Regions from separate parts of the Homo sapiens genome. Here region 2 is reported to be linked to region 1. Evidence: microRNA targets listed by miRTarBase, many of them from high-throughput screens and not tested one by one. Region 1 holds a microRNA gene; the other region holds the end of a gene's coding sequence.
The links. Region 1 holds the annotated microRNA hsa-miR-6768-3p (CAAAGGCCACAUUCUCCUGUGCAC, at 2,075-2,098, shown strand). A microRNA usually pairs through its seed, bases 2 to 8, with sites in the 3' UTR of a target mRNA and lowers its output. Matches are read on the target gene's strand: a 7mer-m8 pairs with bases 2 to 8, a 7mer-A1 pairs with bases 2 to 7 and ends in A, and an 8mer does both.

Region 2: the mRNA of EZHIP is a reported target of hsa-miR-6768-3p. Seed matches in the 3' UTR shown: 7mer-m8 at 2,558-2,564.

Annotation. Positions count from the first base shown.
Region 1 is chr16:2,461,937-2,465,180 of GRCh38, forward strand. MIR6768 (microRNA 6768) reads left to right here and starts at 2,031; the gene lies at 2,031-2,102. TEDC2 (tubulin epsilon and delta complex 2) reads left to right here. Exons shown (of 10, transcript NM_025108.3): 6 at 213-303; 7 at 479-590; 8 at 695-796; 9 at 2,103-2,293; 10 at 2,586-3,027. The coding sequence ends at 2,732. TEDC2-AS1 (TEDC2 antisense RNA 1) reads right to left here. Exons shown (of 1, transcript NR_135198.1): 1 at 3,014-3,244.
Region 2 is chrX:51,407,982-51,411,274 of GRCh38, reverse strand. EZHIP (EZH inhibitory protein) reads right to left here. Exons shown (of 1, transcript NM_203407.3): 1 at 2,432-3,293. The coding sequence ends at 2,747. Among named protein-coding and RNA genes, the nearest start is that of EZHIP, 2.7 kb to the right of the region's middle.

The DNA of each region.
Region 1 (3,244 bases):
TCTGCCAGCCGGTCAGCTTTGTCCCCTTGTCCTAGTCAGTGTCCTCTTGGTTCCCTGCGGCCTCTGGAGGCCCCTCCTGGCATTCAGCAGAGCCAGACGCCCAGCCTGGGGTCCCCACCCTGGCCCTTGCCTACCTCCCAAGGCCCAGCTTACTGGCTGGAATAACCGTGTCCCTCTGTGGTTCCTCTGTGCACCCCACGTGTGCACCCCAGCCTGTGGGCCCAGCTCAGTTCCACACAGACCAGTGATTCCACGGATGCCGCCGCTGCCAAAACCCAGTTCCTCCAGAACATGCAGACAGCTGTATCCTTGCTGGGCTTGTGGGAGCCCTGGGGGCCTCTAGCTCTGAACCTGGCAGGTTTGCAGAGCAGCCCCAGGAGGGGCTGGCGTGGGATGGCCAGGGCCACTCCCCAGGCCCCGTTCTTGGTGGGAGCAGAGGGGCTTTGGCTGCAGGGAAGTTTTCCTGACCCATATCCAGTCAGGCGGGCCCCAGCCCAGGCTCAGTGCTGTGGAGGTGGAGGCGGAGGCGGGGCGCCTGCGGAAGGCCTGCTCGCTGCTGAGACTGCGCATGAGGGAGGAGCTCTCGGCAGGTCAGTGGGTCCTGGGTCTGTATCAGGAGGAGTGTGGAGGGCCAGTGCAGGGAGGGTTTCCAGACTGCCACGGGCCCCACCTGCTCTCCCTGACTCTTCTGCAGCCCCCATGGACTGGATGCAGGAGTACCGCTGCCTGCTCACGCTGGAGGGGCTGCAGGCCATGGTGGGCCAGTGTCTGCACAGGCTGCAGGAGCTGCGTGCAGGTGAGACCCCGCCCCCACCCTGCCACCTGCACTGAGGTCTGGGCCGGGGACAGGGTGCTTTAGCCAGGCTTGTCTGCGCCTCAGGGAAGGGTGAGCAGCCCAGGGACCAGATGCAAGTTGGTGGGCCCCTCCACCCCTCCCACGCCACTCCCCAGTGTGCTGGGTCCTCACCAGTCGTCCTATGGGAGCAGTCAGCCTTCCTCTCCTCCTCAGGGCAGCTCTCCCACCTCGCTGCTCCCCGCACACAGAACCTCATTGCTCTGAGCAGTTGCTTATTCACCCAGTTGTTGAAAAACTAGCATGTGAGGGCCGGGCGCGGTGGCTCACGCCTGTAATCCCAGCGCTTTGGGAGGCCAAGGCGGGTGGATCATGAGGTCAGGAGATCAAGACCATCCTGGCTAACACGGTGAAACCCTGTCTCTACTAAAAATATAAAAAAGTAGCCAGGCGTGGTGGTGGGCGCCTGTAGTCCCAGCTACTTGGGAGGCTGAGGCAGGAGAATGGCGTGAACCCAGGAGGAGGAGCTTGCAGTGAGCTGAGATTGCGCCACTGCATTCCAGCCTGGGCGACAGAGTGAGATGCCGTCTCAGAAAAAGAAAAAGTAGCGTGTGAGGCCGGGCACAGTGGCTCACGCCTGTAATCCCAGCACTTTGGGAGGCCAAGGCAGGCGGATCATTTGAGGTCAGGAGTTCAAGACCAGCCTGGCCGACATGACGAAAGCCCATCTCTACTAAAAATACAAAAATTAACTGGGTATGATGGCGCACACCTGTAATCCCAGCTACTTGGGAGGCTGAGGCACAAGAATTGCTTGAATCCAGAAGGCAGAGATTGCAGTGAGCTGAGATTGCACCACTGCACTCCAGCCTGGGTGACAGAGTGAGACTCCGTCTCCAAAAAAAAAAAAAAAGAGAAAGTAGCTCGTGAGAATCAGCTCCTGGGAGGTGACTCGCCTGGGATTGCGTGAGGTGGTTATTTATAGAACTTGTTTCCTCCTTTGTATTTTCTAATTGCTTGAAGTTTTAAGAGTGAAGATACATCATTTGTCAAAAGGAAAGACAATCTCATAAAAGTCATGCATAAACACAGTAAAGAAATTAGGCAGGCAGAGGGCCACCCCACAGAGGACTCCCTGCCAGCAAGTCCAGGCCCAAGACACACCATCTTGCATGGGGCTGTCCTGAAAGCCCACCTTTCTCCTAAAGGCAGGGCAGGTGGTGCAGATGCGGGAGGGCCAGGCACACAGGAAAAGCGGGGCCCTGGGTTCGGCTGCTACCCCAAAGGCCACATTCTCCTGTGCACACAGCGGTGGCGGAACAGCCACCAAGACCATGTCCTGTGGGGAGGCCCCCCGGAGCCTCGCCGTCCTGTGGGGGTAGAGCGGAGCCTGCATGGAGCCCCCAGCTGCTTGTCTACTCCAGCACCCAGGAGCTGCAGACCCTGGCGGCCCTCAAGCTGCGAGTGGCTGTGCTGGACCAGCAGATCCACTTGGAAAAGGTGCTTCTGGAAGAGGAGGTGGGGGTGCAACAGAGGTCCGCAGCCTTGAGGACCCGAGGGTAGGGGCTTGACTGCTCCACCCCCCAGGACCCAGGAGGATGGGGGCAAGCCTGGGGTCTGTGTGTGTGGGTTGGGAAGTGCATGGGTCAGACGGGGCTGGGACGGCAGGAGGGAGCCTGGAGCCTCAGAAGGAGGGAGGAGGGCTGAAGCATGGGGGCCTCGAAGCCTGTCCCAGGATTGCCCCCCGCCTAGGTGCCCCTGAGACCTTGGCCCTGCCCTGCCCTGCCCCCAGGTCCTGATGGCTGAACTCCTCCCCCTGGTAAGCGCTGCACAGCCGCAGGGGCCGCCCTGGCTGGCCCTGTGCCGGGCTGTGCACAGCCTGCTCTGCGAGGGAGGAGCACGTGTCCTTACCATCCTGCGGGATGAACCTGCAGTCTGAGCCTTTCCCATGCTGCCCTCGGCCTGTTCAGATGGGGATTGGGGGTGTCTTCCCTGGCACTGTGCTCGGGGACCCAGAGATGCCTGTGCTTCCCTGGGAAACCTGGTGAACTGGACCAGGTGGCCTCACTGGCTCTTCTCAGGACAACTAAGCCTGCTGGTCAGGGCTGGCTTTCAGCCTTCCTAAGGCTCCTGGACTCCAGAGGCCAGCGGGGAGCCTTTCCTGGCTCCCTCTGTTTTCTCTCACTGTAGACCAAAGAGCCGCTTGTGTGATATTAAAGCCACTTTAGAAAGCATTTGTGTTTATTTATGTTTTTGAGACAGTCTCACTCTGTCGCCTAGGCTAGAGTGCAGTGGCGTGATCTCAGCTCACTGCAACCTCCGCTTCTGGGTTCAGGCGATTCTCCTGCCTCAGCCTCCCGAGTAGCTGGGACTACAGGCTTCGGCCACCACGCCTGGCTATTTTTTTTTTTTTTTTTTTTTTTTTTTTTTTAGTAAAGATGGGGTTTCACC
Region 2 (3,293 bases), not on the chromosome of region 1:
TAGAGTAACTTTACACAATACAAAACCAACACCATTTCTCATAATAAATTGCAGATGAACATGCCCAAACCATTACCTTCACACTTGGCAAAACAGTAGTACTCTGTGCAGGGGCATATCATGCAATTTACTTCACAAAAGAAGTTAATAACCTCGCAAGGGGGCCATGACAGAGTCCACAGTTCAATGTGTCTTTCCTTCATATTTTATGTAACCTCTGTTCCTCAACGTCTTCATCTATAAAATGGGCTCAATATGAACATCTACTTCCTAAGGTTGTTCTGTGAATTAAACGAGTTAGTGTATGTATAAACGTTAAAACAGTACTTAACACATACAAGCATACTATGATTTTTACCTGTTATATCTGCATGCCAGGTATTATATAAAGGCAACTTGCAGTCAATAATGTTAATCCTTGATGTATTCCATTCATTCATTAAAATGAATATTTTAAACAAGTTAAGATACAAATAACGCTGGGAGAAAAACTACTGTTCTCAGAAGCATTCATGTAACGACTGCGAGTATAAATTTGTTAAATTCCTAGAGTTTGTACCTCTGAGGCTCAATCCTTTGTTTTTTTTTACATTTTTGCGCAGTGGCCTCTGGTATTGGTAAAAATGTTGCTCAATAGCTTGTGGAAATGCCTTCATATTTTAAAGTACTAAGTACAATAAAGAATGTCCCTCTCCATTTTTGAAACAGCCAGTTTGATTTTGAAAGTATTGTTGTTTAGGAAAGACCAGTAACCTGTTAAGGGGCTGTCAGAAATATCTGGACACATGATCATAATCCTAATCAGAGTAAGAACCATCTGTACTGGGCACTCACGATGTGCAAGACACTGTTGGAAGCACTTAATATGCACCATCCATTTTAATCCTTACAATAATCTTGGAGACGTACACTCTTACTGTGCCCAATTGACAAATGCAGAAGCTTTGGATCCCAGGTTAACTAACTTGCACTGGGTCACACAGTGATTCAATAGGAACACCAGAATTCAAACCCAGGAATTCTGACTCTGGAGCCAAGCTCTATTAGCTATGAGATTTTGAAAATCACAAAATTGCTCTGAGCCTCAATTTCCACATCTGTGAAATGGGAATAAATGTAGGCCCTCCAATACTGGGAGGTTGTGACTTGCTGCATTGGAACTGTCTACTTTTTGTCTTAGTCTTTGGATATCTAGAATTACTCAAGAAAAAGAAATATAACAAAGTGAGAGCTTTTAAAATATGTGTTCTTTCCTTAGGAAGGACCCTGAGAATACGGCCTTGCAAGCCCTAGAAACAGCCTTGAAGAATGAGGGTACCTGAAACACTTTCTATAAAAGTGGCAGGATGTTGGGACCTGGTGGGCACACAGGTCCCACTTATCCCCCATGGACTCTTAGCTTTGTGGTGTGAATAAAGCATGAGCAGGGCCTGAACAGGACCCTCCAAATTGTGACCAGGGCCCTTTTTGGTCAGGACTATGCTTGTACTGTTCACATACCAGAATAGCAAAGGAGAGGAGAAATATGAGAAAGGAGGGAAAGGGAGTTTCTTTTGCTGGTTTGCTTTATATTTTTTCACTCTGTTCTTTTAATGTAGTCTCTCCTATTATGTTTCTACAACTTAAATTTTCAAAAAACAGCGGAGTTTAATTTAAAAAAATAGTTATATGGTCAATGTGGAACTTGTAGATTATAGAAGACCATATCACCAGTTATTAAAAAAAAGATATACACCTTGTTCACAGCATGGTGTATGCCCATGTAGTTCTCTCCAAATGTCTACACACACACACACACCCTCACATATCTGCTCAAACTCAGTTACAATTATTTTTGTTACAGTAACATTATCGATTAACACGTATTTCCACTGAATGTCTGACCATTTTCCCATCAATTATTAGCCCCAAATCACCCTCCCACATTCTCCCCACCCCCAAAGACCTCAGGAGCCCGTTCCCCACACATAAACATTTTTTTATCCTTTAGAATCTAAGATATTCCCCTCTCAAGCTTCTGACTCCTGCTGTTCCCCATTTCCTGACTCTGGATCTTCCTCCCAGCTTCCCTACTCCCATCTGGGTTATCGTCTCCCTACCTCTCATCCCAAACTTCATCATTCCCTGCTCCTTTCCTGACCCTGGATGTCTCCATCACCCCTCCTTTTCTCCAGCCACCTGGGTTAGACCCTGGCCCCTTTTCTTGCCCAAGTTGCAAATCACCTCTGCTAAGAGGGTATATAGACCTAAGTGGGAACTTCCTGCACAGAACTCCATTTCAGCCAGTGGGAATAAATTATTGCTAGGACAGTATTTTATTTCTTCTCTCGTCCAAAGAGTCAGCTAGTATGTTAACAACTTTCTTTAACCCTCCAAATATGATATAGGATTAACGATTTTTCGAACCGCAATAAAAAAACACACCTCTACATTTTGTTTAAACAAAACAATTTATTTTACTAATTAAAACATTTCATAACAGAAAAGCAACTTGGAAAACAGAAATCTCAGCTCAAGGGCAAAGGCAAACTCTTGAGGAAGAAGGTGGCCCAGAATCAAAGGCCAACAGCAGGTTAAGTGCTAGGTGGTGGAGTCATGGGGAGGAGAGGCTTCTAAACTACTCAGGATGTTGGTTAACGGCTGGAACTTTGGGAGACCTCGCAGCTAACTACAGGGCAGGCAGCCCATTCACAAAGTGGGTAAATGTTGATTCCTTCTGTGGGTCTTAGAGGATGCTTATAGAGGGTCACGGCTCAGGCGGTGTTGCGGGGTGAGCTGTGCTCTCTATTTCTGCCTGCTCTTCTGGAGGGACAGGGCTCAGAGCATAAAACTCAGGCATCAAAGCATACCTAAGGCTTTCAGGGCTAGGAGTGGAGATAGATCTCAGGCCCAAAAACTCAGGGGAAGGGGATGAGGGGCTTAGGCCAGGAGACCTACTCGGGGAGGAGGAGTTGGAAGCATAGGAGGAGGAGGAGCTCTCATCCCACTGCTGAGGGATGGGAAGGAAGAACCTCCCAGGGGGTGAGGGTGAGGAGGCACGCATACGGACTGCATGCCAAACAGGCGGGGAAGCACGGCTTGGGACCTCAGGATCAGGAGAGCCTGATCTGCTCTGAAAGGCAAGCCTTTCTGAGCCAGTCCCACAGGAAGGATTCTCATCAGCTGACCCAGACAGAGAGCGGCGGCTGAGAAGGGCTGATCTTTGCTGGGTGGAACGGCTCCGGAGGCCAGTGCCTGGCGTCGTGCTGGTGCTGCGATGACCGGCGTCTGACCTTGCTGTGCGGACGCGAAGG